3 linked regions of the Homo sapiens genome follow. The protein of the gene in region 1 interacts with the protein of each later gene in a pairwise test. Each region holds a gene or a part of one and is shown on either strand. Other genes may lie near its edges. The genes, in order: KRT76, IPO11 and LCA5L.

Region 1 (10,892 bases):
CTTTGTCACTCAGTAGACTTGTCACTTTGGGAAACTTAAACTCTTTGAGTCTCAGTTTCCTTATCTACAAAATGGGGATCACAGCAACTCCTTTATAGGTGGTTGTGAGGATTAAATGTGACGGAAATACATGAAAATAACAGGTAAGGCATAATCACTCAACAAATTCTAGCTCTCCCTTTGCTAAATCTTCATCCTTCCCAAATTAAAAAACAGGGGAAATTGTAGATTGAAGAACTGGGTTCCTTCTCCACAGTTCTACATTTGGGATGGGCAGCCCCACATGCCCAACTCAAGGGGCTGACTCCTTTTCTCCCCTCTTTCATGCAGGTGCGGTTCCTGGAACAGCAGAACAAGGTCCTGGAGACCAAGTGGGAACTGCTCCAGCAGCAGACCACAGGCTCAGGGCCCAGCAGCCTGGAGCCTTGTTTTGAATCCTACATCAGCTTCCTATGCAAGCAGCTAGATTCACTTCTAGGGGAGAGGGGGAACCTGGAGGGAGAGCTGAAAAGCATGCAGGACCTGGTGGAAGACTTCAAAAAGAAGTGAGGGCTCCTCCTGGGAAGTTTCCCCTTCTGGGGAATTAGCAGGGAGGTGTGGTCCTAATTTGGGATTTCAACTGTTCCCAACTGTGCCTTCAGTCAATACTCTGGGATGGATTTATTGAGTGAAACATGACAAAGCAGAAGGGGGTGAAAGGGTGGGGACTGAGACTCCCATGTGGCTATGACACAGATTTCAGGCTCCAGATGGGCCCCCTCCTATTCCAGCCCAGAGGGACAAAAGAGTCCTCCCAGAGTTTAGAATCCTTTAGGATGGGGAGTCCGCCACACTTGACTGGACACAGGAATCACCTTGGATGCTTGTCAACAATGCGTATTCCTGTATTCCAGTCTTAGGTATTCTGAATCATAGGTGTGGACAGGCCCCAGGAGTGTGAGTGTTCCCCTAGCTCCTGGGGATTCTAGGCAGAGGTCCAGGGCTGCACTTGGTAAAGGCCTTTATCAGTGTGTCCCGTCCAATCTCCTGTTCTGCAGCTTTGGTTTGCCTCCTCCTCCACGTTCCAAGTTGCAGTCCATATCCGCTGAGGTCTGCAAGGAGCAAACTGGGCCTCTCAAGGTGGGAGGGAGCTCCCGACTTCCCCAGGGATCAGAACCCACAGGGACGGGCACACCTGCTCTGCAGAGGCCCTATTCCAATTCAACCACACAAACGTGGTGGGCACCCACTCTGTGGCAGGCTCTGTGCTGGGCTCTGGGAATTCAGTGGCAACTCAGATTCATATTCCCAAAAGAGATCCCAGAGACCTCTTTTCTCCTAGAGGAAAAAAAGAGGTCCTGCCTAGAGACCTCTTTTCTCCTAGAATCAGTCCAATTCCTCAAGCTTTATGAAATACAAACTCTTGGTAGTAGATTTTAGTCCTTAACAGGCAGGAATCCCACAACTTTGATGCATTCAGAAGGTATGAATTCTTTCTTAACTGAAATTCCTATAAGAAGTAACTGTAATGAAGGAAAACAGAAACTGAGGAAATAGGCAGAAATGCCCAATGAGAGCACACATTTCACTGGGTTCCATATGCACACATTGTGCTTTGCAAAGTCAATCAAAGAGCCTAGGCAAGTGGTCAGGCTCCTTGAAGTTTGCCCTCTCACTGACTGCCCATACCTCTGCCCATCACTGCATTTAGAGGGAAGAGGGCCAGGCAGTGCCCTGAGCTCTGAGAGGTCTCTGGACAGGACCAGCTACGTGATTTTCAGGCCTCAGTGCAAAATGATAATGCAGGAACCTAGTTACAAAATTATTAAGAATTTCAATCATGCCTGTAATCCCAGTACTTTGGGAGGCTGAGGAGGGAGAATCACTTGAGCCCAACAGTTCGAGACCAGCCTGGGCAACAAAGTGAGACCTTGTCTCTACTAAAAATTAAAAAATTGGCTGGACGTGGTGGTGCATGCCTCCAGTCCCAGCTATTTGGGAGTCTGAGGCAGGAGGATTGCTTGAGCCTGAGGGGTTGAGGCCACAGTGAGCCATGTTTGTGCCACTGCACTCCAGCCTAGGTGACAGGGTGAAACCTTGTCTCAGAAAAAAAAAAAAAAAAGAAAGAATGTCAATATGGTGCCAGCATTGAGCTAAGTGTGAGGACCCTGAGCCCAGGGTCCTGTGTAACTGCACGTGCCCATGAAGCTCGTCCTGTCTCTGCGCAGGTGAGGAGAGTGCCTGGAATCCTCACCTCTCTTTTTTACTTCTGAAATGCCAGTGTTCAAATGTGTGCCTCTTCTTGTTCCAGGTATGAAGATGAAATCAACAAACGCACTGCCGCAGAGAATGAGTTTGTGGGGCTCAAGAAGGTAGGTGAGCCTGGACCAGCATATCCAGGTTTCCTTTCTGGGAGCTGCCCCCATGGAGAGAGTGCACAGCCAGCTGTTCTGGGGCACAGGGACCTTATATTGTGTGTGGGATTGACACTTTTCCTTACATTTTTGGAAATGAAATGTTTCATGAAGGAAGCTGCTCTAAGTATATTACCATGGAAAGGTATGTTAAAATGTTACTGTGACTAATGAGCTGATTAGCAATGCGAACTAATAATGAGCCCTTTATGTGTAAGATTAATCAAGATTTTCAGCCTGCAAATGTACTCCAGATGCTATTAATAACAATCAACAAATACTTGTAGCATATTTAAACCAGTCATCGTAAAAGTGAAGTAGTGAGAATACCCTAATTTCTGTTCAGGAGGGTGGGATTTCTGGTACTATACAACCAAAGTCACATACATATTAGGTAAATATGATTTTTCTACCCTAAAATCAGATGGTTACTCTGTGCCTTATGGTTTGTATTTTGTTAAAGTATTGGGGCTTGATATGTCAAGCAAGGAAAAGGAAGAAAGCCATTTTGATCTTCCTTATTTTAAAAGGGAAGATGAGAAGTCACAATTAGGAGGAGAGCTGGGGGCGGAACAAAGACGAGACATGAGGGCTTAGGAAAGAGCCACTGGGTGGGAGGGGAACAGAGGGTCATTCTCTGGGTTTCTGACCTCCTCTGCAGGATGTGGATGCGGCTTTCATGAACAAGGTGGAGCTGCAGGCCAAAGTGGACAGCCTGACAGATGAAGTCAGCTTCCTGAGGACCCTCTATGAGATGGTGATTCCTTGGTTTGCAAGCTGCAGAACCTTCCTGTCTGATTCTTCCCAAGCATAACTTTAGGGGACAGCCAAACAGCACAACACTCACAAAACCAGCAATGGGGCTCAGGACTCAGCTCCACCCCACCTGGGAAATGTTAACTGAGCTTCTTCAGTCTGCATAGACCTGGCCCACAGGTCCTCAGGCCATTTTGCTCTGCACCTTCTCTCTGGCTTCTATACCCATGTCATAGTTGGCTTCTTCATAATACTCCTCCCTGCTGGGGGCCCATGGAAACTTACACAATAAGACTCATTGGCTGATACTTTCAGGCTGATAGCCTAATTATATTGCATATTTTGCATATTTCCTTTAGCCTTGTTGTCTAACATCCTTTAGGCTGTAGCCAGGCCTAAAATGTGAGCTTATTTTTCCAACTGATCCACCTCTAGCCCCATCCTTGGGATATCTCCGCTAGTAGAGGATTCCCAGCATCCCCTGGTCCAGGCGATGGTAAGAGTAACTATCCATGTTTCCTGCAGGAGCTGTCCCAGATGCAAAGCCATGCCAGTGACACGTCTGTGGTTCTGTCCATGGACAACAACCGCTGCCTGGACCTGGGCAGCATCATTGCCGAGGTCCGCGCCCAGTATGAGGAGATTGCCCAGAGGAGCAAGTCTGAAGCTGAGGCCCTGTACCAGACCAAGGTGGGAACCCTCCCTGTGTCCTTGGATCCTGATGACCTTCATTGAGAATGTGCCAACACTTTGCAAAAGCCACGTTGATTGGTTTTTCCTCTGTCAGCTTGGGGAGCTGCAGACCACAGCTGGCAGGCATGGGGATGACCTGAGGAACACCAAGAGTGAGATCATGGAGCTCAACAGGATGATCCAGAGGCTACGGGCTGAGATTGAAAATGTCAAGAAGCAGGTGGGGCTGGGTTTAACGGAGAGATCCCAGAGGTCTTCTGGGCCCCGGAGAGAAGCAGCATAAGCTCTGCTCCTCTGCTACATGCTCTCTCCATCCTTTCATGGTGTCACATGTGGGATAGCGCAGTGTCTGGGAAACTCTGTTCTCCCAGATGTTTTTGTTGGAGGTTGAACTTCTTGGAAAGCTCACTCAAGAAAGATGTTTGTTTATTCTAGTTTGCCTAACAAATCTTGCAACTGCAGTTCTGGACTTAAACACTCAGATGTCAGCAGGATCTGCCCTTAGTGAAGCTGTTTCTCACACCTTTCACATAACCTTGATGGCTGCTCTGTATCATTGGAATGAAGTGATTAGGCAAGAGAGTTTTTAACAGTCTTGCAAAAAAGATTAGGGACTAACCAGACCACTACTACCTGTAACAGCATAGGAAAGCAAATTAGTGCTCCCTTTCTTGATGAGCCGCAAGTTGATTTCAATGGGACAAAGATGAATTAACCAACTGCAAAACTGACTTCTTTTCTCTGAGCATGCTCCATTGGGATTTCTAAGGAAAGGGAGGAAGGGATGCAGGATGTGGGGGAAGAGATCTACTCCTAGTAAGGATCAAGTGTTTGTTTCCGGGTCACTATGCTAATTGATTTTCTACCTCAGAATGCCAACCTGCAGACGGCAATTGCAGAGGCTGAGCAGCGTGGAGAGATGGCCCTCAAGGACGCCAATGCCAAGCTCCAAGACTTGCAGACTGCCCTACAGAAGGCTAAGGATGACCTGGCTCGGCTCCTGCGTGACTACCAGGAGCTGATGAACGTCAAGCTGGCCCTGGATGTGGAGATTGCCACCTACCGCAAGCTGCTGGAGGGAGAGGAGTGCAGGTGAGGGGCCATGGGATCACCATTCTCCAGATATGGTTTTAGAGTGACCTTTGATAATGTGGAAAGGGGGCAAGATGATAAGGAGAGGAACACTAAGACAAAGGGCAAGGAGTGTCTTGAATGACAGAGTCAAGGGTTCAAGCCCCACTATTTTATGTCCATCAAGATCATCCAACTCTCAAATGTTTAATGGACATCAATATCATGTTACATATCTCTATTGATCTTCACTATGTGCAATGTATGAGGAAAGTTCTTTGGCATTATGACAAGTGATAGACCAGTGCTGTCCACTGGAACTTTTTGAGATGATGAAAATTTTCTATTCTTGTGCTGTCCAATACAGTAGCCACTGGCCACTTGAGCCCTGGAAATGTGGCTAGTGCAACCGAGAAACACAGTTTTACATTTAATTTAATTTTAATTAACTTAAATAGCATCATGTGGCTACTGGCTACCATACTGGAAAGCTCAATATAGACAGTCCTACAAGCTCCACCCCTGAAGCTGAGTCCATATGGGGAGACGGTTGATACATCCATGCTCTTGGAAAATAATACAGCATTAAGCAGCAGATAAAGTCTTAGCAAGTGTTTATCAAATGCTAAAGGAGTGTCAAGAATTGAGAGATCTTTCTGCTGAGTTTCTGCCCAATGCATCATGTGCTCAGGGAGTAGCTAACCCTCTGTCCTTGGGTAGCTCCCAATCTGATGGAGGAAGCAGAACCCAAGTATGAGAAGGAAAGTGAGAGTGAAGGTGATGTCAAGTGTACTAGGAGTCATGGGATGAGGAGGGAATGGTCAACACCAGTGGGCACACATTGGCAAGATATGCAGACCCAATCCATATCTTCTCAGATATGTGGATGTGCCTGCTCCATTAACAAGAATAAGACACAGGAAGATGGACAGTGTAGGTGGTACATTTCAAATCCATCCTGCATTGAGTTTCAGCCCCTCCCATATTTTCTCCACCCTGAACAACCCCAATCATGTCACCACCACCCCAGGAGGGCCCATTGTGGAAGCCTTCTTGGAAAGGCAGAATTGGAAATAAAAAATCCAGGGCTGGGTAGAGAAGAATGAAAGGGCATGCTAAGGTGGGAAGATGGTCTTAGCAGGGGATGAGAAGTGGGGACAGGCCAATCAAGGCAGAGCTGGGCATCAAGTAGTTTGCCTAGAGAAGATAATCTCTAAGGGCTAAGGGGAAAAGTGTGGGAATTCTCAACTCTTGAAGCAGCCCCCTTTTCTGGGGAGATATGGTCATGGAAACAGACTTGGAATAGGCTTTCTTCTTGCAGGAGCTTGACCCCTAGTGGGGCAAATGGGAGGGCGTGGCTCCCAAAGTTGTGAACTCTCAACTCTTTGGTTATTGACTCATAACAGAAAGAATTCACCTCTCCTCTTCCTTTTCAGGATGTCTGGAGAATGTCAGAGTGCCGTGTGCATTTGTAAGTAGCCCATTCAAAAAACCCTCTCCCTGGGTTGTAAAAGGGCAGCTAGAAACAACCTCACTGACTGACCTTCAGGCAAGAAGGCCTGTTCCATCCAAGGAAGTCAGGCCACCTGACAGCGTCTAGGATCTCAGGCCATGGCCACATGCTCTGCCCCTAGTGTAAGCTGACAACCTCTCAGGCCAAAGCTAAAGCCCCTCTGGTTTGGGGAGTGGCCTAGGTTGGAAAACCAGAAATTTCTGTAGATTTCTGGTTCCTGTTCTTGGGAGAAGGCACTAGAGGCCAGGCTCACTCTCATGGTTTGCAAACTGAGGCATTAGATAAGTTAGCATCTTTCTCGAAGTCACATGGCCAAGCAGGGTGGGGATGTAATACAGTCCTTGGCTTCCAGTTTCCCAGGCCCTTTGCCTGAATTGTGTGCCTGTTGTCTTGTAGCAGTGGTCAGCAATGTCACCAGCACAAGTGGCAGCTCTGGCAGTAGCCGTGGAGTTTTTGGAGGGGTCAGTGGCAGTGGCAGTGGTGGCTACAAAGGCGGCAGCAGCAGCAGCAGCAGCAGTGGCTATGGAGTCAGTGGCGGCAGCGGCAGTGGCTATGGAGGGGTCAGCAGTGGCAGCACTGGGGGCAGGGGTAGCAGCGGGAGCTACCAGAGCAGCAGTAGTGGGAGCAGGCTCGGCGGTGCAGGTAGCATCTCCGTGAGCCACAGTGGAATGGGCTCCAGCTCTGGCAGCATCCAGACTTCTGGAGGAAGTGGCTACAAGTCTGGTGGTGGAGGCAGCACCAGTATCCGCTTCTCCCAGACCACGAGCTCAAGCCAGCATAGCTCCACCAAGTGATCTACTGTTCCAAATCTCTATAACCACCTGCTTCCCACTCAGCCTGCAATAGTGTTTCCCACTCTCTGCTTGGCATCAATAGATGCATAAGGGTCAACCACATTTTTCCTCAAGTTCCCTGGAGAAGAAGCTGAACTCCTGGTTTCTCCATCCCCATGACCTTCCCAGGGCCATGGAGGTCCTGCTGCTGGTCTGGGATGATGATGCCCCTGGAAACCTTCCTGCAATGGCCCCTTACTTTGGACAGCAACCCCTGAGCCCAAGCCAGTTTTGGCCTTCACAGCCTGGCCTGTTCCCACTCTGGCCCATCTCCCTTTCTTACTGGGAGTTGGAGATTTGAAGCCAGTCATCTCAGCACTGTCTGAGGAGGGCAGAGCCATGGGTTCTGTGCTGGAGGGTGCACGGCCAAGATCTCCAGACTGCTGGTTCCCAGGGAACCCTCCCTACATCTGGGCTTCAGATCCTGACTCCCTTCTGTCCCCTAATTCCCTGAGCTGTAGATCCTCTGGTGATGAGTATGTTGCACTTTCTTTTCTCAATAAATTGCACTGAACTTCACATTCTGGTGTTGGTCTTTTATTCCAGGAGTCACAGAATAGATCACGACCCAAAAGTGATGAGAAATCAGGTGGGGGTGATGGTCTTCCAGGAATTTAAAAGTGGGTATAAAGGCCACTGAATAGTCTTGGCTTCTCCACCTATTTGGTTAGGTTCCCGTGATAGGTCTGCCCAGGAGTATGTTGTTTAGGGGAAACCTTCCCCACTCCCAAGAAAGTCATCCCATCCTTCCTCCAGCCTCTGAGCAGGCCTCTGCAATTCAGTCTTGGAAGAAGTGAGTTCTGCAGTTCATCAAGGAAACAGATTCCACTGGGACTTCAGTTCCTTTGTTCCATCCCCATCCCAGCCAGACACAGAAGCAATCCTCTTTCTGCAAACACAGCTCTTGGAATCTGAAGGGGTCAATACATAACATCTTTTCCTTGCATAGGTTCTGAGCCAATTAAAAAATAAGACAAATGAATGAGCAGATGGAGGGTCAATATTGCCTTTATTACCAAGAAAGCAGATACTGGAGCGTGTGTCTTTTTACCTCGGATGGAAAGGGTTTCTCCTATCACAGGACCTCAGGATTAGGCCAGATTTTCCACCTGGGCAGGGGCAGCCTAGGGCCACTGTGGCCTTCCCTATGGGGTCAGATCCCTCATAGTCGAGGGAGAGAACAAGAGAGCAGAATATAATCTTACTGTGGACAGCCAGATCCTAAGAGATGGAGGGGCATTGCTCTGCAAACTCAACTCTTCCTTCCAAACTCATTGATCAGGTAAGAGAGTGGGTGGGAGTGTTAAACTAGTAAAACTCACTCCAGATGGATGTAAAATTAGGAACAGGGATGATGTGTGCCTGCCCTCACACCAGCGTTTACCAGCCATTCTCAGAAAGCTGAAACCCAAACCCAGGGGGCACAGGGGTAATGAGACAGTCACTGAGAGAAACCAGGAAAATTGGGGGCCTCAGGGAGATGACATTTAGGATCTGTGATTTTTCCCCACCCTGTCCCCCAACCAATGCCCTCTGCATGCCATTAATCATGGCAAAATACTAGTTTGTAAGTCACTGTAGACCATGTGTTACTGCCCATAAGACAGGTCAGGGATGGAATAACAAGAGGGCATCTGTACATTTGTCTGATGTCCAAGGGGAGTGCCAGGGCCTGGTCTCCGTATTTCTGAGTCTTAGCTCAGCCCATCTAATCTCTAAAGTACAGTAGCCCTGGCCTCAAGAATTGGAGAAGAGGGCATTTTAAAGTTCCTATACCTGAATGATCAATAAATCCTTGCCCATCTTTTCATGGCTCACAAGCCGGAGGTAGTGCCCTTTCCACTTTCCCTTGGCCTAGCTCTGGGTACTTTGAGCAGGGGCAGGCAGTTCTGAATTGCTGCTCTTACTGGCCTTTTAAGAGACGCTGCAAGAAACATAATCGGTTGTCTCCCCAACTCCCCACAGGAAAACACCCTGGGAGCTCTGCTCCATGTGTTGCTTAACTTAATGGGAAGAGGCTGACTGTCTTGAGTCAACACAACTTCTCATAAGACAGAAGCAGCAGGGTTTAGAGACATCTGCTTCAGTCTCTTTATCCATCTGCTCCATGTGTGTTGATAGCTGGGTCCTGGGTACTAATCTCAGGGCCCTGCCTAGCAGGTGGGGAACTGAGTGAAAGTTTGGTGGTCAATTGAAAGGATGAATAGAGATGAATAAGGAGAGTGGGCCCCGCATCCCCTTAGCCTGAATGGAAGATGAGATAGGTCACACTCCAAGGTAGGACAGAGTGAAAAGTTTACAGTGAGGGCCTAGGAACCTCTTTTGAACTCTTGTGAGGAGGAATGGTGGAGGGGGCTACCAAGGAAGGTAATGAAAGACTTAAGGATACCTAGAATTAAAGGAAGGGGCCTATTTAGAAAGGCACATTGTAGAAGAAGCCTGGAGCAGGCCTGGGAAGGAAAGAGACTCTGGGCAATATGGAGGAAGGGCAAGGGGTCAGGGCTCAGCTATCCAGACCAAATCCCAGGAGAACTCCAGGACTAGTATCATCTTCCATGTTCTTGACACAGTGGCACTAAATCATGTGCCAGTGGAGCACATGGTGAAGCTCCAGGGTGAAGGCATCATGTCTGAGGCCAGGATAGGGGCTGGGGAGAATAGAACATTTTTAAGACTGTGGGAGACTGGCAATCTTGGGCTGTCTCAGCCTTGCAGAATCCCTCAATCCATCGCCCATCTGAAGGCAGAACTGGGGCAGCTCTTTGCATTTGAAGGCAGCCAGGGTAAGTAGAGTAGACATTTACCTGTGTGGAATGGTCAAAAGGGTGACAGGAGCCCTTTGGAATTGATACTTGAAATCCTACCAGTTGCCTTTAGAATTAAACAATCTGTCTCCTAGTGGCAACTACTTTGTTGTTTTCCATCCTTTATTCTTTACCCTTTACTCTTCTCCCTCTCCTTCTAGATATCTTTTACTAAATTATAAAAGCAACACACATTTATAGCAAAAAATGCATAAAGTTTTAGCAAATTAAAAGAAGATTAAGATCATCTATGATTCTACCATCCTGACATTTTCCTACATTCATGCATGTGCATGCTTACACACATATTCATAGAAATATATAGAATATTTTACAATGGGGTCTTAACAATACATTCTGCTTTTTAACTTGATTTTTCACGTAATGTACTGTGGAATTTATCCATTTAGTTATTCAACAACTATTAATAGACTGAATGCCTACCATTTTCTAGCTACTGTGCCAGGCCCAAGGATACAGGGGAGAACACATATAGTTTCTGCCCTCACAGAATTTATAATCTAGCTGATAAGAAATTTACCAAATAGCATCTTTCCACAACAGCAAATGTAGAAGGAGATCATAATTTTCTTTTTCAGTGCAGATTCTTATTTTTACTTAAAAAACAAAATCAAAGGTACACATTAGGAACTATAAACAATTATGTGTTTTTCTTCTTTCTAGAGGTGTGACATACATGTTTTCTAGTCAGTAATGTCCTACCAAACATTTTACTAACAGGAAGCCAGACAGATGACCTTTGGTACCTCTGAAGCCTTTTGCTGCTTTCTCTTACTCAGGCTGAACTAGACCAGTGGAACATTATTTT
Region 2 (11,201 bases), on another chromosome or scaffold:
GTGAACACTACATGTAGCTTTCTTTATGTCAGCATATGTAAAAAAGGGAAGTACAGTCCAAACCTCTGCTGACAGGCAAAAACCAGGTGGGTTCAAACTAAAAATAAAATTTGGGGGGGTAAAGGGAGGGAGACTGAGAAATGATTAAAAAAGATCTTAGCACAACTCAGGGGAGAAAAAAAAAATCACTTAATTTTACCTAAAACAAATTGAAAATCAGGAAAAGACAGCGAACATGTATATTAAGTCACTAATATATTCACCCAGGCATACAGTAAAGCACCAGTAGGAAAAAAGAAAGAAAACTATTCTTTACAATTTAAACTTCTTAAAATCATACGCCTGTAAAATTACTACTACTATTTCAGTAATTTTATAATAAAGCAGCAAACCTACTGCTTTGAAGGGGGAAAAAGCAATGAAGAGCTTACTATCAAGTTCTCAGTAACAAAATCAACAATAATATATGAATACCATAAAGAAAGAAAAATTCCTTAAAAGAGCCCAATAATTCCAAAGGCTTAAAAAAAATTCTCAAAATGAGGGACAAAGAATCAACAGTAAAGATGAAATAAATTATGATGCTATTTCAATGCCAAAGTCTATCCTGATTTTTAAAAAGAATATGTAAGCTATAAAGGGATTTTTTAAAACTGCCTTTTTTTCTAAGAAATTATAAATTACTTTATAATAGTAGAGCTTAATTTTTTTTTCAATGACTAGTAATGGGAAGGGCAAACAAGAATCAAAAGATTTTCTACCCTCAAATCAAACTGCTCACCAAGGAATAACTAGTGCAGTGAAAGGCCATAAACATCATAAAGAAAAGACATAAACTGTTGTGAACTTGATGATTTGCACAGATGAAACTTTAAAAACTAACTCTTTTAAGGCACTTAAGAAACATACCACTAAATCTTGATCTTGAAGCAAGTTACAGATTGCTTCATAAAGCATGGGTCTTAAGTCAGACTTGAATTTCACAGAAATCCACTGACCGATGAGCCAAATCACCCTGCGTCGCAATGGCTTATACCTAAACAGGAAAAAATCATGAAATTAAAATGTTAAATATTTTAAGAGGTCTATTTCTTTTAGTATAATTTATCATTTAAATCTAAAATGTAGTAAGAATGCAATCTGCATTTTTAATATAAAAGCTTAAAAGCAGGTGTGCTGGCTCATGCTTATAATCGCAGCACTTTGGAATGCCAAGGAGGGCAAATCACTTGAGGCCAGGAGTTGAAGACCAATCTGGGCAACATGGTGAAACCCCATCTCTACTAAAAATACAAAAATTAGCAGGGCGTGGTGGCATGCACCTGTGGTCCCAGCTTCTTGGAAGTCTGAGGCATGAGAATCCCTTGAAACCCAAGAGACAGAGGTTGGCAATAAGCCAAGATTGTGCCACTGCACTCCAGCCTAGGCAACAGATCAAGGCTCTGTCAAAAAAAAAAAAAAGCTTAAAGCCTACTTCTAAATGTACCACAGTACAAAATATTAACAATGAAGTCTTGATCTAAATAAATATTATTAAAACTTTTAGTACTTAAAAATTCCTAGGCATATATGTTGTAATCCTGACTCTTTTATCTTAAAGAACCGCAATGTAGGTATGTTTCATAAAAACCAAATCCATTTGGTTTTAGCTCAAGTAACCAAAAACAGTGGCAATGCCCCAAACTCTAAAACTGGAAAGGTCCCCAAAAATAATAATAAAGAAGCTCCTGTATGTAATTTTCTACTCCAATTCTGTTAATACTATGAAGATTATTTTCAGAACAATGTAAGAAACTTCTAGGCTTATATAAAACTTTCATATAAATTTTGTGATTTCAACTAAGCTAATTTTGTAAGAGGTACACAATAACAGAATGTGACTCAGATTACCAAAATAACATATATTAACACTGGCAAAACATTTACAGTAGCACATATATACATTTCTTTCTTTCTCTCATCATCTTCGCTAAAAGAAATCAAAGTTCAGGTAAGGAGAAAAATCATGCAGTTCAAAACATTTGTGTCCAAGAATTTCACTCATGAAGTACCTTTTTGATATTATGTAAATTTTAGTGGCAAGATGATAAATATTTCTGGGTATAAATGAAACACTTTTTTTTTTCCCAAAAAATTGCAATTTTAAAAGATGATCAAGCACACAGGAAAAAACTGCTCATTAAAGTTGCAAAAACTGGGCCGGGTGCAGTGGCTTACACCTGTAATCCCAGCATTTGGGAGGCTGAGGTGGGCAGATGGCTTGAGCTCAGGAGTTTGAGACCAGCCTGGCCAATATGATAAAACCCTACCAAAACTACACAAAAATAGCTGGGCATGGTGGCACACATCGTGGTCCCAGCTGCTCAGGAGGCAGAGGTGGGAGGATCACTTGAGCCCAGGAAGCAGAGATTGCAGTGGGCCAACATCATGGCACTGCACTCTAGCCTGGGTGACAAAGTGAGACCCCATCTCAAAAATTAAATAACATAAATAAAGTTACAAAAAAAAGTATGTAAGTATTCCCTGCCCCCAAGAAGTTTATAACACACCTAAAGGAATTTAAAAACACAAAGTAGTGTACTAGGACTTTAGAAAAGGAAGAGAAGAAATGGGCAGAGACAGACGGAATCTGAGCAAGTCTTTGAGATAAACAATATTGGAGCCAAAGGGTGGAAAAATGTCATTTCAAGGGACAGAAACTGTTTGAACCAAGTGACAGAGGCAGAAGTAACAACTTGTGTAGAGTGAGGTAAAAGCACCAAAGAACCATCAATTTTGGGACTAAGACCATATTAGACTCTGTTCCAGATAAAGAATATGAAACTCAGAAAGGTAAAATTCCAAACTCATAGACACATCCAAACAGAAGTAAAAGTATAGATCACTTTGCTATTTAATGTGTGCATTGCTTGATTTTTCCCAGACCTACTAAGTCAAAACCTAAACTTTAACAAGATTACCAGGTGACTCATATGTACATTAAAGTTTGAGAAACACTGGTCTACATCAGCTTTGTCCATTAGAAATATAATGCAGGCCACATATGTTATTTTAATTTTTTAGTACCCACATTATAAGAGAAAAGAAACAAAATCTTATTCTTTGGGAGGCCAAGGCGGGCAGATCACGAGGTCAGGAGATCGAGATCATCCTGGCTAACACAGTGAAACCTCGTCTCTACTAAAAAAAAATACAAAAAAATTAGCCGGGCATGGTGGCGGGCACCTGTAGTCCCAGCTACTGGGGAGGCTGAGGCAGGAGAACGGCATGAACCCGGGAGGCAGAGCTTGCAGTGAGTCGAGATCGCGCCACTGCACTACAGCCTGGGCAACAGAGCAAGACTCCATCTCAAAAAAAAAAAAAAAAACTTATTAATATTTTTACATATCCCAATATATCCAAAATATCATTTCAACATGTAATCAATAAATATTTTACATGGCTTTAAATTTTAAATTTAAATTAATTAAAATTGGAAAGTTGTTGCCTCAGTTGCACTAAGCACATTTCAAGTGCTCAATAGCTACACGTAGGGAGCTTCTGCACTGGACAGTGAAGGTCTTACACTAAATAGCCTCTAGGGTTTAAGGACAACTAAACTGCACATTTGTTTCGCCAATGAAAGCTTTCTCTCCATCAAAGGCTCACTAGCTCCCTGAGACTAAGTCAGAGTCTATTTTATTTAACACCGCCTATAGGACATGGCAAATTCCAAGTGTTAAAAATATATGTTAACTGAATAAATGATTGAATAACTGAAGAGATAAACAGCTACTTACTGTTAAGAATTACTTTTAGAGTATCTCCAGCTCTACAAATTCTGTGGCTCTAAATGTGACCTATGCATTCATTAGTTTAGTCAACAAATATTAACTATCTATGACTATATGCTAAGTATTCTGATAGGCCCCAGGTATACTGAAGTGAATCAGTAGAAGTGTATCCTTCAAATTAAGAAAAAAGCCCCTTAGAATTTTTTCAAATTCTCCAATTTTAAACTAAGAAATAATTTTATAAACTATGAAAGAGGTTTTTCCTTTCATTTTATGCATTCAATACCTAAAATTTAAGTAGACAAGTGCTTAAATGTATATAAAACGTAAGAATTGGGCTGGCCAGGTGTGGTGGCATGCGCCTGTAATCCCTGCTACTCAGGAGACTGAGGCACAAGAATCGCTTGGACCTGGGAGGTGGAGGTTGCAGTGAGCTGAGATTGCACCACTGCACTCCAGGCTGGGTGACAAAATGAGACTATTTCAAAAAAAATAGAATTGGGCAAATGTGCTATTAAATGTACTAAATTAATTCATTTCATAATTCATATTACTAAATGTAATATGAATCTGTACTATTTAATTAGGTACCTCAATTAGAACTTAGAAAGGGTATTCAAATATTTTTGCCATGATGTCTCTATATCCTACTCTACCGTCTCCCCAGAGACTTGCAGTATGCATTATGTGATCCCAAGACATTCATCTTTCACAGATGTTACTTTGATTAGGCTACTTCTGACACTAGGCATACATCCTGCTAAGTTTCGAACTGTCTTTTTCTTAGGCATAGTTTCTTGAACTCAGAGACCTCCATCCTCCCTCATCTTTGCATAAAGTCCTCCTTTTCTCCTGCAAACTACCTGATATATCAAATACTTCCTAGATGTCAAAATTCTTATTCCTTTCCACATAAGACATTACCTAACTTATACGATTGCATTTTTTAAATTGTAAGCCATTTTAATGCCTTCCTGTCTTCATTAATAAAATAAATAAGGTAAAGTAAGTGTATAATAAATATAAAATTTTATACTTGCCTATTGTGAATGACTTGTAATTCTGGAAGAAGCTGGTTTTTAAACCACTGATCAAAATCAACACTGTCAAAGAGCTCATAAGCAGCTAATCCAACAGCATTATACACTGAGAAGAAAATTTAAGAAAAAAAATTAAAGGTTTCAGATATCAGATCTGCAAATGAGTGTATGAAACATATGTTAATTAAAGGAAACACACAATATGCTAATCAGGGAAATTATTTAAGTAGAAATAATTTAAGTAGAAGAAATAATTTATTTTAGAAACACTATTTTACTTCATGTTTTTCCTAAATATTCCTTACTACTTTCAAACAGATAATTCAATTCATTCTAAAATATTTAAGTCCAACTATAAAAATTATAAAATAATGCCTGCTTCTAAAATGGATGTAATATTTTATGATCTGGTCCCTACTTAACTCTCTCCAGCCTCAACTCAACCTTTAACCCCAATGTTCCAGTTAAACCAAAATAGTCACAATTCAAATTCTAACTGTGCTTCCTCCTCTTTCCTTCAAGTCTTTGTACTTATTGCTCCATCTCCCTGGAATGCAACACCCTCTTTCCATCACCACCTCCTCACACGTGTAACTCCTACTTATCCTTGTGTTCTTCCATTACACTTCTTTGGGAATCTTTCCTTAGACACACCAAACTATCTGGTGATCATCACCTACTTTAGCATTAACTATCCTGTATAGTATTATTATAATACATTATCTGTTTACTTGGTTATCTCCCCAATCAGATTGTTCCTGTATTTTAGTTACTCTTGTATCTCAACACCCTCAGCACAAAATCTACCACAAAACAGACTCTCCATCTACTGAATAAATAAATGCTTCTAAATCACTTAAGTTTAACATACCAGCATCTTTGATTAACAGTGCATTCATATCTTCCACATTTGTGGGTCCTAAAAAATATATATATAAATAGGTATCAGTAAAAGCAAATAAAACTAGTTTTTTAAAAAATTTATATTTAAACACAATTTGTTAGTTTCCCAATTCAATTAAGTATAACACATTTCATGGTGTCAAAAATGGACACAAGTACAAAGGGAAAGTCTAAGTTTTATGATTATCATTAGAGAACACAGGATTAAAAACCATTATAGCATATTTGAAAAATGTTATGACAAGCAATATTCTAGAAAATATACACCACAAAATGCTAATGTGCTATATACCACAAAATTATTTTTTTTGAGACAAGGTCTTGCTTTGTCACCCAGGCTGGAGTACAGTGGAGTGAGGTTTTCTCAGTTCACTGCAGCCTCATCCTCCTGCGCTCAAATGATCCTCCAACCTCAGCCTTCTGAATAGCTAGGACTACAGGTACTAACCACCAGGCCCAGCTAATTTTCCTAATTTTTGTAGCGACAGGTTTTTGCCATGTTGTCCAGGCTGGTCTGGGACTCCTGGGCTCAAGTGATCTGCCCACCTCAGCCTCCCAAAGTGCTGGAATTACAGGCGTGAGTCACCATGCCTGGCCAACACTCATTCTGACAACATGCTCTTCTCTAGGATACACCACTACACCTGGCATTTTTACAAGGCTTTTATTTACTCATATCCCTATAGGTGAAAATCTCAGGTTCTGTCCTTAAGATCCTCTTTTCTTTTCCCAAGGCTCCTTACATACATGCACTCCGAAAGTATATCTCTATCTCCTACCACTTCTAATGAGGTAACTGTTTCCTTGTCATTAAGGCTCAAAAGTTTAGGATCATCTTTGATCACTTTTCCTTGCCTAGCACATTCAATCGGTTGCTAAAAGTCAATCAAGTAACAATAGTTACTGAATATGCCCAGCACTGGGAATAAAATATAAACAAAACAGACGTGATCAATGCCCCTAGGACTTACAGTCTAGCAGAAAAGACAGAAATCATAAATCAATGTTAGTTAATAGGCAGATAATTAGTTACTTGTGTACAAAGTGTAATGACCAAGTGTCAAAAATTTACATCATCATTTTCTCTCAAATCCATAATCAATTATTTCCATTCCCACTGCCACCATTCTAAGAGAGGCTAACACTATTTTAACCTTTTCTCACTATTTCTCACAACACGCTCCAGATAGACTTTCTGCAAGCAGTATGACTACTGTTTTGCTTTTGCTTCTATTGTATTTACTACAGGAAAATTTATCATCGTCCAAACTATAATTCAAGGCCTATCTCAAATGCCACCCCCTTGGAAGATAATAAGTTTTAAAATTGTTTTTCTCAAATTCATATTTATTATATGACCCAGGAAACAGTACAGTATGCATTGTAGGCACTCAGACTATTTCTTAACTAAACGTTAAAGAGATTAACTCAAAGTTAATCACAAAATATGCCTTACCTTGAAGTGTTTGCATCATTTCTAGAAGTACAGGAGTAAGAGTCTGATTATATTCATGGAATATATCTATAAATAATACTTCAGTGCATGGCTGGAGAGGGAAAAATACAAATTTCTCATCAAAACAGTTGCATACTATATTGACTAATTCTTTAATAAAGCAAATACTTAATCTTAAAATTCTAAAACTTTGAAAATGTTTCCAACTTTTGATTTGTTAAAAAAAAAAAGTAAGGTTACCATTTTTTTATAACCAACACAAAGGAAAACAAAATCGAATTATAATTAATAAAAGAAAGTTGATTTCATTTCAATTATTTGTCATTACGCATTCAAAAACTTAAAACTATGGCAAGCAAAGTGTACATTTTAAATTAATCATACCTTAAATTTAAAAAGCATTCTGTAGCCACTCATTTATAGCTCAGTACTATAAATGGCTGACTACCCAAGATTCTTTTTTTTTTGAGACACAGTCTCACTCTGTCACCAGGCTGGAGTGCAGTGGTGTGATTTCGGCTCACTGCAACCTCCACCTCCCAGGTTCAAGCGATTCCCCTGCTTCAGCCTCCCGAGTAGCTATTATGTATTTTCTTAGCAATGATATAATAAGCAAAAACAGGAACTCCAATTTGCCAAATAAAGTAGCCTTTCTCTTAACAAACACAAGCGGTAACAGAAATTAGCATTAGCTACATTTAAAAAAATGATTTGTTTGGTTCTTAAAAGTACTGAATCATTTCACATTGCATGCTGGTATCAAAACATCTCATGTACCCCATAAATATGTACACCTACTATGTACCCACAAAAAATTTTTTAAAATAATTTTTTATTTAAATTTTAAAAAGGAATTTAATCACTAGATCGTTCACAATATTTAAATTTTTTAATTAAATTTTTAAGGTATTGTGTGGTGTTTTAAAAGGAACATTATAAATATACACACTGAAATATGGTCAGAGGATGTGTCATCTCAGATAACCATCAACACTGGGAGATGTTTACAGGAAGCTAAAGTAGCCATGAGTTGATAACTAATAAACTAGCTTATCATGAAGGGCTCATTATATTATTCTATTTTTTAATATGTTTAAACTTCTCCATAAAAGAAACTTTTAAAAATTAAAGGAATGAAATTTTTTAAAGTTTTAAAATCACCAGTAATCTCTCTGGTTAACAACTGTATGTTTATGAATCTAAAAACATTAAAGATAACATTTTTAGAAGACAAATAGCTAATTATGTAAATTATGTAAGTGCAAATCTTAAAAAGAAGAGCTCAAACATCACATCTGGTAACGGCAAAACATTTGTCATATTAATAAATGCGTTGTAAAAGTATCCTATAACTGAAAGCAATGGGCTAGTCTCTGAGAATCACATGAAGTGGTAAGAGAAATAACATACCAAAAGAAACTTTACTAATGAAATATATAGAAGGAAAAAATTCTAGCTTAAGAATGGCAGCTTTCAGTTTGACAAACATTTTCTATTTGTGTAATGACAATTATTTCCCAAGCAATGTACTAAAAGATGAAGAAAAAATTTGTTTTCCGACCCCAAGTTAAACAAAAGAAAAGGCCAGGCACAGTGGCTCACGCCTGTAATCCCAGCACTTAGGGAGGCCGAGGCGGGTGGCTCACGAGGTCAGGAGATCGAGACCAACCTGGCTAACAAGATGAAACCCCGTCTCTACTAAATAAACAAAAAATTAGCTGGGCGTGGTGGCGGGCGCCTGTATTCCCAGCTACTCGGGAGGCTGAGGCAGGAGAATGGCATGAACCCAGGGGGCGGAGCTTGCAGTGAGCCGAGATGCACCAGTGCACTCCAGCCTGGGCAACAGAGTGAGATTCTGTCTCAAAAAAAAAAAAAAAGAAAAAGAAAAAAGAAAAAAAACTCAGATTAAACGTCATAATTTAATATGAATATAGTTCTTAGTTTCTTATAAACAGTTTCTTATCTGTCTGACTTAATGTTGGGAATCTTTAATTTTTTTTTTTTTTTTTTTAAGAGACGGGTTTTGCTTTGTAATCCAGGCTAGAACGCAGTGGCATCATCATGGCACACGGCAGCCTCAACCTCCTGGGCTCAAACAATCCTCCTGCCTCAGATTCCTGAAGAGTTGGGACTACAGGTATGCGCCACCACTCTGGTCTAATTTTTTTTTCCTTTTTTTACTTTTTGCAGAGACAGGGTCTCACTATGTTTACCAGGCCGGTCTTGAATTTCTGGCCTCAAGCGATCCTCCCACCTTGGCTTCCCAAAGTGCTAGGATTAAAGTGTGAGCCACCATGCCCAGCAAATGTCTGGAATCTTTAATAGAGTGTCATTCTCTACTAAGAGCTTTAGAAAGATTAAGCTTTCCCCTATCAATTTTTCTTGCAATTAATACTTACCCTCAAACTATATTTCCAAGAATCTCCTCCTGTTTCTTCCACTGCTGCAATTAAAAATATGTAATAATGACATTTTCAACATCTTGGTTTAGAAAACAAAGATTTTAATAACATCAGTATAATATTTTTGTGAACTCTTTTAAACATAACATTAAGAGCAAAGCCTTGGGAACACAGGCCTTACACAGATTTTGTTACTATATGCTACAGATCACAGTTGTGTATCTCACAGTCGTCTATTAAGTGCTTACTATATCCATAAGCATTCTCATTTTCGATAAAAATTCTTTATGGAAAAAAGCTCAAAGTAGTTGTCATTTCCAGGGTATCTGCTATCACCTGATCCAATATCACTAGAATTCTGAGAATCATTTCATTTCAATACAGTAATCATGTTTCACTAGGTACAATGATTACTCACACTCTCCATAAATTTCTTGAATTTAAAGAAAAATACTTCAGGGCTCTTAAAAATTTAGGGACTCAACACTTTATGTTACAATGTTGTATGTACTATATAAAGAAAGCAAATTGAAAAAAGATGTTTCAAAAAAAGCAAAAAAAAAAACAAGAAAAGACATGTTGTACAGTACAATCCTGTATTAAAACTAAAATTACTTTTAAAAACCAAAAGCATGGCGAAGATAAGTATTACAAAAACTTTTGGGCACTCTTAAAATATTAGGAAACGTGTAACTACACAAGGGTACACAACCAAAGAGAAAAGGGAGGCTAAAATCTAGCCTATGTCCCACCATAGCTTAAGTAATTCACATACAAGTAAGTACTTTATTAGACACATGATTCCTTGATTTTCTATAGCAAGGGTCCCAACAGACTTATTCTACTTATCTATCTAGTACTAAAATTCAAACAGATATAAAGATGTCCTGTCCAAAAAAAAAAAAAAAACTATTCATCAAAAACCTCCAAATTTCTTTGCAAGAATTTCTACAAATAAAAAATAACATGGAATGAATCACAAAATAGAAACTGACAGGGTAAGAGAGAGTTAATTTTATATTTTTGTTTGAAACTACATGATATATTTGTAAAGGAATCCAAAAACTAAAAAGGTCTTTTCCTGGACAAAATTCTACAACATATTTGCATAAGTCATTCATTTTCTGCTTCTCAATTTGTTCTAATGGATAACAACGAAAGAGTAAGTTAATTTTAAAACACCAAGATTTCCAGATCAAAAGTGCTGTATGAAAATACAATATTATACCTATCACTCAAACAGATATTTATAGAAAGGGGAGAAAAGTCATTCTAACACTAAAAAATTAATTCTTACTAAAGCCTTCTGGGTCTTCTTCCCACATTGTCAGTTCTTCTTCAGTTAATAGGAAATAATGAGAGACTAATCTTCTACATATCTCTGTCAAAGTAGGATATGTGAAGAATGCCATCTTAATCTTATGGGCTTCAAGAGTTTCAGGGCTGCTATCTAGAAAAATGAAATTTCCAAGTTAATTGTATAGCCAAACATTGTAGCTACATTGGATTATGTAACTTAAATAAATAAAAAATACACTCTCAGGGAAGAAGATACACTTGTGTATAAATTTTCATTTTTATTATAAACAAATCTCAAAGATACTCTTTCCTTACAACACACTCACAT
Region 3 (11,201 bases), on another chromosome or scaffold:
GGTTTCACCATGTTGGCCAGGATGGTCTCGATCTCTTGACCTTGTGATCTGCCCGCCTCGGGCTCCCAAAGTGCTGGGATTACAGGTGTAAGCCAGCGCGCCTGGCCTGCCATAAATTTTCTAGTGGATGTACTGTCAACTTGCTTTTGTCAAATTTCTAAAACACATAGTATAAGGCAGTGATCAATTCTACTATTGATCACTACTATAACCTAATCTGTCTCATGTAAAAAAAGCTACAAGCAACTTCAGATTAATTGCTGTGTTCACCGATTTGTCTTAAATAGGCAAAAATATCTGAAAATCAAAAATCATAATTTCAATCCATATCCTAAGACACTGAATTTTTGGGAGCTTACTAAATTTAAAAGTTGTCATGAATGCTTTATAGAGTATATTTAGATGCTATATTCTTTTGAAATAATATATTTACAACTTGGTAAGATCAGTGTATAAACTGACTGGCCCAGTGTTTATCACAGCTTATTAATGTCAGTGTCACTAAAATCAGCTTTTAGGTAAAATCGGCTTTTAGGTAAACTCAGTATGCTTCTTTTTGCTACAACAAATAGACAATTGTTTTTAATATTAATGGCATAGTCTTTGACAAAAAGAGGTCATAAGAAAAACTGGGACCAGATGATAATAACACTTAAATGAATTTTGTACCTGATTCGCTAACATTTTAAAATGAAGATTTTAAAAAATGTATCAAATAGGTCAATTTATTTGGCTTACTGAGCGTACATATTTAACACAACTGATTCCTAAGCCTTTGGGATACAATTCTTTATTTTTAACCCTCTTTTATTGAGGTATCAAAGAAAATTAGTAAGAGTACCATTTGATAAGATTAGAAATGTGTATCCCCATGAAACTATCACCACAATCAAGACAGTGAACACAACCACATAATCTCCCAAAGCCTCCCAGCACCCCATTGTAATTCCTCTCATCCTTCCCTGCGCCTCACTCCCAACCCAGGCAAACCCTGTTTTTTTGTCACTATCAATTATTTTGCATTTTATAGAGTTTTATATAAATGGAATAATCCAGTATGTATTTTTATTTGGTTGGCTTCTTTCACTCAGCATTATTATTATGAGATTCATCCATGTTACTATGTGCATCAATATCAGTAGTTCATTTGTTTTGTTTTTAAGTTGCTGAGTAGTTTCCAATTGTATGTATAAACCATAATTTGTTTATTCATCTGTTCACAGACATTTCAGCTATTTCCAGTTTTGGGCTATTACAAATAAAATTGCTGTGAATATTCTGGATATAAATCCTTTATCAGATATATGCTTTGCAAACATTTTCTCCTCATCTGTGATTTTTCATTCTCTTAAAAATGTCTTTTAAAGAGCAGACTGTTAATTTTGGTGAAGCCCAATTATCAATTTGTTCTTTGAAGAATGATCCTGGCCGGGCACGGTGGCTCATGCCTGTAATCCCAGCACTTTGGGAGGCCAAGACAGGCGGATTGCCTGAGGTCAGGAGTTCGTGACCAGCCTGGCCAACAAATTTAAACCCCATCTCTACCAAAAAATAAGAAAATTAGCTGGGCGTGGTGGCGGGCGCCTATAATCCCAGCTACTTGGGAGGCTGAGGCAGGAGAATTGCTTGAACCCAGGAGGTGGAGGTTGCAGTGAGCTGAGATTGCGCCATTGTACTCCAACCTGGGTGACAAGAAACTCTGTCTCAAAAAAAAAAAAAAAAAAAAAAAGATCCTTTTGGTGCTGTATCTAAGAAATTTTTGCATGACCTGAGGTCACAAAGATATCCTCCTTTCTTTCTTCTAGAAGTTTTACTTTAAATCTGTAATCCATTTTGAGTTACTTATTATGGATTAAAATTCATTTTTTGGTATATGGGCATCTAATTGCTTCAGCACCGTTTGTTGCAAAGACTATCCTTTTCCCACTCAATTGCCTTTGCATCTTTGTAAAAACCCAGATATTCATATGTTGATCTATTTCTGTGCTCTCTATACTGTTCTACTGATCTGTTTCTCTATATTCATACCAATACCACACTATTTTGGTTACTGTAGCTTTTTTTTTTTTTTTTTGAGAGAGGGTCTTCTTCTATTGCCCAGGCTGGAGTGCAGTGGCACGATCTTGGCTCACTGCAACCTCCACCTCCTGGGTTCAAGTGATCCTCCCTCCTCAGCCTCCCAAGTAGCTGGACTACAGGTCCATGCCACCACATCCAGCTTTTTTTTTTTTTTTTTTTTTTGTAGAGACAGAGTTTTGCCAATTCTCCTGCCTTGGCAGGGTAGGTAAATTTCCAAAAGAGTTACTTGTACATAAATTATACTCATCAAAGAGACAGGATATTCCTAGCATTCTGGAATTCCCAGGACTCCAGAACCATCCTAAAATTTCTACCTATATGACCTCAATACAGGTATGTTTGGGTTCACCTGGCACTGTGTGAGTTCTATTCTTTTCCATGAAATGGCGACTGAGAGACATTATCAGCAATGTAAACAAAAGTAAAACCCAGTTTGATTCTTGGCTATTACTATAGTTGGCAATGAATGTGTCCTGAATGCAGGTATCAAGTAGGATCATATATTCAGTCTGCTAAATACCAGTTTTCTCACTGACCTGTTAAAAATTGACTGATGACTAGTATCAGGCCTATAACTGTACTTTTAAGTTGATTAAACTATTTCAGAAATCTTCATATTAATATACATACACTACACTTCTCTATTGTTATCAATAAAAAGTGTAGTTTCCACATACAAATTTCTGATTATGTGGTGCATTTTTGAAAAATCCAGGCCTTAAACCAACCACCTACTGTTCTTTCTTTTGAGACGGGGTCTTACTCTGTTGCCTAGACTGGAGTGCAGTGGTGTGATCACAGCTCACTGCAGGCTTGACCTCCTAGGCTCAAGCAGTTCTCCCACCTCAGCCTTTCATTTAGCTGGGATTACAGGCACATACCACCATGCCTGGCTAATATTTTTAGTTTTTGAAGAGATAGGGTCTCACTATGTTGCCCAGGCTGGTCTTGAACTCCTAGGCTCAAGCAATCCTCCCATCTCAGCCTCTCAAAGTGCTAGGATTACAGGCATGACCCACCATGTCCGGCCACTGATGTTCTTAATTAATTAATATGTTCAGTCAAAGAACATTTATTTAGTGTCTTCCAGGGTCTGGGGTTATGAAGAAGGTAAGGCAAAAGGATCTTAAAATAGGCAAAGTTAGTAATTATAAAATTAATATCTACTATAGTTACACTAGTTTTTGTATCAAATTTACAGTATAGTTCAGATTTAGTTTGGCAGCATTTATATTTTGAACAGTTTACAGTATAGTGGTGCCTATTTTACTGCACATGAAGCATAATTTTATTATGTCTCTATCATTATGGAGTTTATAGTTGTTTCTTTGCTGTTATGACTCGGGAACACAATGAGTAATTATAAACACTATTCTAATGGAAAAAATCTGATCTGGTTGAGGTTACGTTTTCCCGGAATGCACTATGGTGAAAGGGATGGCTACTTAAAAGAACAGTAAACTTCTATATTATGCTTATCTAATTAGTGAATTAGAAATAAGAATGTTCAAGATCAAGGTATATGTCTGAATCATTCTGAATACAACGGTCAGGTGTCTTTTCTCCTGCTTTTGCAACAAGGCAGATGGAAAATAAAACACACTAAAATGTTTGAAAGTGATTACTGCATACCTGGTGTTCTTTATTAAACTTCCCTAAGATGTCTGATGATAAACTGAAGATAAGCACAGGGTTCTTCACACTGTAGTATTTATGAGCTTTCCACGGTAGTATTTTTTTGACAGGTTTTGGTCTCTTTTTAAAGAAAGAATATATTTTAAAAAACCTAAAATGGTATTACAAAAGGAAAATGTTACAATCTCACAAAGAAACATATTTATGTAATAAGAATAAGGTTTTGAAGCAGTTTTAATTAATATATATATATTCCCTTGTATTATGGATTGGTGTGGTCTTGGCTCACTGCAACCTCTGCCTCCCAGGTTCAAGCAATTCTCCTGCCTCAGCCTCCTGAGTAGCTGGGATTACAGGCGCCCGCCACCATGCCCGGCTAATTTTTTTGTATTTTTAGTACAGACGGGGTTTTACCATGTTGGCCAGGCTGGTCTCAAACTCCTGACCTCAAGTGATCTACTCACCTTGGCCTCCCAAAGTGCTGGGATTACAGGTGTGAGCTACTGCACCTGGCCACAGGCGGCTTTTTCTCTATGAAAGTGAATCACCTGTTGGCAGTTGATTGGGAAATTCTTGGATGTGATTATCAAACAGTGATGTTGAAGTAAGATTTGAAGGAGCCATACACAGCAGTGCCTTTTCAAGTTTTTGGCAGAAAAGATCTTGTGGCTCACCTGCCTGCTCTTTCTTTCCAGTACAGAGTTGAACATAAATAATTAAAGTTTTTGGATTATGTGTTTCTTGCCTGTCAACAATAAAAATAACAAAAAGACGACCCTCTTGGTAGCTAATTGTAAGCACTGGATTGTATTTTAGAAGCAGAGACAGTGACTGATTTAGTATTATATACTAAAATGTATTCTGGTTCCATACTTTCATGAATTATCAGATTCTTGGTTAATAATACAACTAGAAAATCCTAATTCTTAAAAGTAAATATTTTGTTACACGCATATAATGAAAAAAATTCAGTAGTAAATTTATAATTAATTCATAAGGATAATTTAATTCAAATGATTACATCTGTGTTTCTGGCTGAAATTATTCTATGGGTAGGTAATTACATACATATTTTTTGAGATGGAGTCTCACTGTGTCATCCAGGCTGGAGTGCAGTGGTGTTAGCTCAGCTCACTGCAGTCTCGACCTCCTGGGCTCACGCGATCCTCCTGCCTCAGCTTTTCAAGTAGCTGGGACTACAGGCATGTGTCACCATGCCCAACTAATTTTTTTATTTTTGCAGAGACGGGATTTTACTATGTTGCCCAGGCTGGTCTAGAACTCCTAGACTCAAGTGATCCACCTGCCTTGGCCTCCCAAAGTGCTGGGATTACAGGCATGATCCGGGCCACAGCACCCGGCCAGTAATTATATTCTTAACCAGTCCTGCCTCTTGGGAAAAAAAACTTACTCAGCATGCAAATTTTCCCTCTTTTCTTATCCATTCTCAACATTTCCTATTGCCTTCCCCATTTCATTTTTTCTCTTTAACACATACTATCTAACCTAACACCCATTTTACTTCCTCAGCCTGTTTGTAGCCTGGCTTCCCCACTAACTGCATGCTTCACAAGGCATGCATTCTGGCTCCTTTGTCTATTGCTATATCCTCAGTGCCTAGAGGAGTTCCTGAGAATATTAAGTGTCCAATAAATATTGATCAAATAAATTAATGTTCCGGATGCCTCTGTGCTTAATTCCTCTCTTCATATCCATTACTCCTGAAAAAACTTCTCATTACTGCTAACCCAATCTGAAAAGCTCCAAATGAAAGCTTTCCCAATGTGATAAATACCTATCTCAAACAAAAAAACAGCTTTAAGCTTAATGGTGAAACATTAATTTACACTGATGTAAGAATTAAGATAAGAAATGCCTACTATCACTGTTGTTCATTAATATTGTTCTGGAGGTACTAGGTCTAAATATTGGAAAAGAAGAGGCAAGTTATTATGTGGAAATGAAATGAAATGATTATATACTTATAAAACACTATCAAGAGAATTAAATTGACACCATAGGTTACAAAATGGCTATAAAATTAATCTTTTTTTTGAGACAGGGTCTCACTCCACTGCCCAGACTGGAGTGCAGTAGCGTGATCACAGCTCACTGCAGCCTCAACCTCCTGGGTTCAGGTGATCCTCCCACCTCAGTCTCCCGGGTAGCTGGGACTACAGGCACGTGCCACCATGCCTGGCCAAGTTTTTGTAGAGATGGGATTTCACCATGTTGCCCAGGCTAGTCTCAAACTCCTTGGCTCAAGAAATCTGCCCACTTTGGCCTCCCAAAGTGCTGGAATTATAGGTGTGCCTGGCCCTAAAAATAATCTTTCCTCTATGCAAAATAAAACGACTTAGAAAATAGATGAAACATACCCCACTTACTATATCCAAATATTTAAAACATCTAAGTTTACTACGAATAATATGAAGGAAACTTTAAAACTACTGAAATAAAATATTTAAGTGAAGGACACATTTTGTTCTTATATCAAAAGGACACAGATTATAAAGCTGTAAATTCTCCCTAATTTAATCTACATGATCAATGTATTCTCAATGAAATACTGAGTAATTTTGTGAAATTTGACCAAACGATACAAAATTCACATAGAGAAATAAATATGAAAGAATACAAAGAAATATGAACAAAAATGATGAGAAGGGACTACTTTGATCAGATACTGAGATAGAAAACTACAGTCACTAAAATAGCCTGATACTAATGCTTTGACAGAACAATATTCTGGAATAAAGAGTTCAGAAACAGAAACACAAACAAATACATATGGTAACCTAGTCTAAGATAAAGGTAGAGAAAGTGGACTTCAGTAAATGATGAGAGGTAGGCTAGAATCTACCTGGAAATCAAAACAAAAGCAGATTCTTATTGCATTTCTTACACTAAAATGACGGTTAGATGGGTTCAAAATGTAAATGTTTAAAAAATTATTAAAAGAAAACACAGAGTGTGGAAAAACATAAAGCCTAGAACCATAAAGGAAACAACTGATAAAAATAACTGCATAAAAATATAAAACTTCCTTATAATTAAAAAAATAATAAAGTTCAAAGGCATCTTACAAACTGGAAAAAAGATTTTCAATACATATGACAAAGACCTAATTTCCTTAATTTGCAGAGACCTCTTAAAATAATCCATTAGTAAAATGGGCAAAAGATATGAATGCATTACAGCATAAACACATTACAGAAACACAGAAAACCAAGAGTTATATAAAAAGATGTTCGAACTTACTCATAATGAAATGCAAATTAGATTCCGCTTTTCATCTACCAGAATGGCAAAAATTAAAGAATCAGATAAAACATATTATTGTTATTATAACTGTGATGAATACTGATAATGCATATTATAAAAAATAAAGCATATCTGTGTATGTGTAGATATGTAAAGTTCTCTAAGATACGTTCATTTTCCAATCAATGTCTACATGTAAAATAGAGTTAAATTCTCATTTTTAAGATTTAAGACTTTCATTTGGTACAGTGGTAGGCTGAATAATGGTCCCCTAAGGATGTCCATGTCCTAATCCCTAGAACCTGTGTTACTATATATAGCAAAAGGGACTTTGCAGATGTGATCAGTTTCAGGTCTTGAGGTGGGAAGATTATCTTGAGTTATCCCAGATTATCCATGTGGACCTAATGTAATCACATGGGCCTGTCTAAGAAGGACACAGGAGGGGTCAGAGTGAGAAGGCTCTGTGATCACAGAAGCAGAGTCAGAGGGAGAAGACACGACGCTGCTGGCTTTCAAGATGGAAGAAGGGGTCACATGCCACAGAATACAGGCTTTTCTAGAAGTTAGAAAAGGGAAGGGAATGATCCTCCCTTGGATCCTCTAGAAGGAATCAGTCCTGCTGACATCCTAACTTTAGCCCCTTAAGACTCATTTCAGACTTCTGACCTCCAGAGCTGTAAGAAAATAAATTTGTTTGAAGCCACTGAGTTTGTGGTAATTTGTTATAGCAGCAATACAGAACTAATACAGGTACCTTGAAAAACATCACAAATTAAAATGAGACTAAAAGCAGGCTATTAAATGCAAATGAATTGCACTGTTATAAATTTCAAGAAGTCAGAGAAGATGGTGAGTTCAAACGTTTTGGGGAAATATCTTAATTGTTCCAGAAACCAGCTTGCTTTACCTTGCCTTGGACTATATCTAGGAACAAGATGACCAACCTGAGATAGCTGGTGGGATTGTTTGCTTTGGAAAAATGAGCTGGAGAAAACAGCCGACCCTCTCATAAGCACTCCATGAAGACTTTTTTTTAAAGCAGGTGGCTTTCCTGCAGAGGCAGTGGCAGAAGCATGGCTGAAGGCTGAGAAAGCAGAGTGAAGTAGTTGTAAGGGGGAGGAGTGACAAAGAGGCGTCAGGTAGCTGGCAAAGTTAGGAAATTAATTAGAGCTAACAAATTAACTGAGGACATAAGTAAATATATTTAGAATCATGGGGTCAAATTTCTTACTGTCTGAAAGAGGGAAGGCTGGAAAGAACCCTGAAATGTTGGATTAGAATGAGAAATGCTAGGTTCAAATACACACACATACACACACAAGGAGTTATATACAGTTACAGATCTATGTGCATATATATCTATAAATGTATGTGTATGTGTATATACATATGTATGTATATGTGTGCGTGTATTTTTCCCCTAACTCTGCTGAGAGGGCCTAGAATCAACGACACCCCAGAAACAATGAGTACACTGTGTACCATTCTCCACTAAATACCATTCTCTGCTATAATGAATTGGGGTTCCTTGGAGAAATGGATGATCCTAAGCCTGAGGCAGGCAAAGAGAAGAAAGGCTGGTGTGTATCAAAAGGGCACAGGAGCCAGCTTTAAGAAGCTCCCACTAGTCAAAGATAGGGCAATTTGAACATCAATACCAATAAGGAGGATACATCAGCCTGAGCAACACAGGGAGATGCCATCTCTATAAAAAACAAAACAAAACAAATTAGCTGGGTGTGGTGGTACACACCTATGGTCCCAGCTACTTGGGAGGCTGAGGCTGCAGTGAATTTGATCATGCCAACACTGCACTCCAGCCCGGACAAGAGTGAGACCCTGTCTCAAAAAAAAACAAAACAAAATGGGATTTACCACGTCAGAGTATCTCTTCCCAAAGCACTAATCAAATGCAAAGGGAAAACAGGTGGCTGTGGAGAAAACTGGCAGATTTGTGCTTGAACAGGTAATCAAGGTTCATGTCACCAGGGTGGGACAGGTGACATTCACTAGTGTCCATGGGCACTTGAGAAGATCACAGCACCACTTCTGTGGTCTTTCTGCCACAAGCACAGCCTGTCTGGTTAGAAAAAAACATCAGCCAGACCCAAGTTCAGGGTCTTCCTATTGAATGAAAGGCTTAAACTCTAAACTCTTTGACAAAAATGTTAAATGAACAGAAAAGCTCTTCTCTAAGCTTATAAATGTGGTATTATATAGCTAAGATAATCAATATCTTACGGTTTTCAAGAACATTATTTCAAACACTTTATCTACTTTTATGTGTCCCAATTTTTTGCTTCAGAAATTTTGCGAGTCACTCTAAACATTGACAAAGGGAGGTTATGATTCTTAACACTGATTGGCCTGGCGTGGTGGCTCACACCTGTAATCCCAGCACTTTGGGAGGCTGAGGTGGGCAGATCACTTGGGCCCGGGAGTTTGAGAGCAGCCTGGGCAACATGGTGAGACCCTGTTCCTAAAAAAAAATTAGCCGGGTGTGACAGTCCCAGCCACTCAGGAGGCTGAGCCCAGGAAGTCAAGGCCGCAGTGATGCAGTGAGCTGTGATCGCACAACTACATTCCAGCCTGAGGGATGGAGTGGGACCCTGTTTCAAAACCAAAAAAAACCAAACGAACAAAACACTGATTGAGAGGCAGTATACTGTGGAAGAAAAAAGGTATGTTCCCAGTTCTGCCAATACAACTAGCTATTAGGCCTCAAATGTCTAAGGCAAGAAATTAGGTGATTTCTCAGTGACATATAAGGTCCAGTCTAGCACTAAAATCCATAAATGAAATATACCTATATATATAAGCAATTTCAAGTTTATTTGATAACATGAAAATGTGCCACGTTCAAAGTTTGGATGGTTACAGACTAGCTATGCTATGTAGGTTTTGGTAATTTAACAACTTTATATATTTTAGAACAAATGTTTGAATTCACTACCCGACTGACACCCTAGTCACCTTCAGGATAAGAACCCGTGCCTCTCTACTTCCACCAAGTGGTGGCAAGTGCAATGTACTGCACTGAGTAAAGGGCTACAAATCTTTACACAAGTACCCGTTTTTAGCTACCCTGACACAACATTCTTTTTAATTTTCAGTGTTTGCCTGATTATTTTTACTAGATTTTCATTCTATTTTAATAGAATTGTATTAAAACACACGGCGCTTAGTATCTCTTACATATTAGAATGTTCATTTCATTCATTCTTTCAGCACCCATTTGAGTGCTTACTATGTGCCAGGCACTATGTGGGGTGTGGAGATACAATGATGAACACAAACAGCAAATGTTTCTATTTTTGTGGGCCTTATGTCAGTAATGAACTAATCATAATAGTGACTGTCCAGAGTGTCTTCAAGGAAGGAGATACAACTCTGTGAAGATAAAGAAACCTGATCCTGACAGCGATCAGGGAAGTTATCCCTGTAGAAGTACTGTCTGAGTTGAGATAGGAAGGGTCAGTGGGAACTAATTAGGCAAGAGAGGATGAGAGGGAGGAGGGAAAAACAATGCAGACAGAGAGGAAAGAATGCCAAGGCCTGGTGGGTGGAGGAGGCCCATGTGGCTGAAGCCCAGTGAGAAGGGCCAGCGGTTTCAGATGAGTCTTGAGACGCAGGCGGGGGTGAACAGCTGCAGGGCCTTCGGAAGGCGTGTTTATGATGTGGATCATTAATCCAAGGGCAATGGGAAGCTAACTGTAGGCAAAAGAGGGAGGCGGGAGGGGTGGCATAATCAGCTCTGCCTTCTGAAGGTTACTCTGGCTGCAGGGTGAAGAATCGAGAAAAGCCAGAGGGAATGTGGGGAGACAAGCTGGTACAGGACTGCGGCAGGCTGAATGAAGGTGGTGGTTTGCACTTGGGTGTCCACGACAATGAAGAGATGTGAAAGATGCCCAGGAGACAACCTCACCTGGGCTTAAGGATTCACTGGGTGTTGGGGTGTGATAAGGGTCAAGGAGGAATCCTAGGTACAACGGAAGAGGTTCCAGCTGGGGTTGGGAAGTGGGGTTGTTTGGTTTTGTGCATGTTGAATTGGAGGAGACTGAGTGGTATTAAGAAACACTGTCACGCAGCTAGCTGAACGTACGAGTCTAGCTGAGAAAGGGTCAAGTTGGAGAAAGGTAGGAGTCAAGAGCACAGGGCTGGAACTTAAAAGCTGTGCGTGTGAATCTGTGCCTTGTGCTAGATGAAGGGGCGCAATGGAG

The links.
Region 2: the proteins of KRT76 (region 1) and IPO11 interact in binary tests that used the Homo sapiens proteins (3 or more experiments, as listed by UniProt).
Region 3: the proteins of KRT76 (region 1) and LCA5L interact in binary tests that used the Homo sapiens proteins (3 or more experiments, as listed by UniProt).

What each region holds. Positions count from the first base shown.
Region 1 is NC_000012.12:52,765,041-52,775,932, reverse strand, and holds the end of KRT76 (keratin, type II cytoskeletal 2 oral), read left to right. Parts: intron 1-330; coding exon 331-545; intron 546-2,290; coding exon 2,291-2,351; intron 2,352-3,054; coding exon 3,055-3,150; intron 3,151-3,674; coding exon 3,675-3,839; intron 3,840-3,936; coding exon 3,937-4,062; intron 4,063-4,713; coding exon 4,714-4,934; intron 4,935-6,349; coding exon 6,350-6,384; intron 6,385-6,822; coding exon 6,823-7,220; 3' UTR 7,221-7,778; downstream 7,779-10,892. UniProt on the Homo sapiens protein: Probably contributes to terminal cornification.
Region 2 is NC_000005.10:62,483,833-62,495,033, reverse strand, and holds part of IPO11 (importin-11), read right to left. Parts: intron 11,025-11,201; coding exon 10,872-11,024; intron 9,616-10,871; coding exon 9,572-9,615; intron 7,264-9,571; coding exon 7,173-7,263; intron 5,733-7,172; coding exon 5,685-5,732; intron 4,920-5,684; coding exon 4,814-4,919; intron 1,037-4,813; coding exon 910-1,036; intron 1-909. UniProt on the Homo sapiens protein: Functions in nuclear protein import as nuclear transport receptor. Serves as receptor for nuclear localization signals (NLS) in cargo substrates.
Region 3 is NC_000021.9:39,431,709-39,442,909, forward strand, and holds part of LCA5L (lebercilin-like protein), read right to left. Parts: intron 8,066-11,201; exon of another isoform or gene 7,926-8,065; intron 7,011-7,925; exon of another isoform or gene 6,976-7,010; intron 4,460-6,975; exon of another isoform or gene 4,389-4,459; intron 3,866-4,388; 5' UTR 3,712-3,865; intron 1-3,711.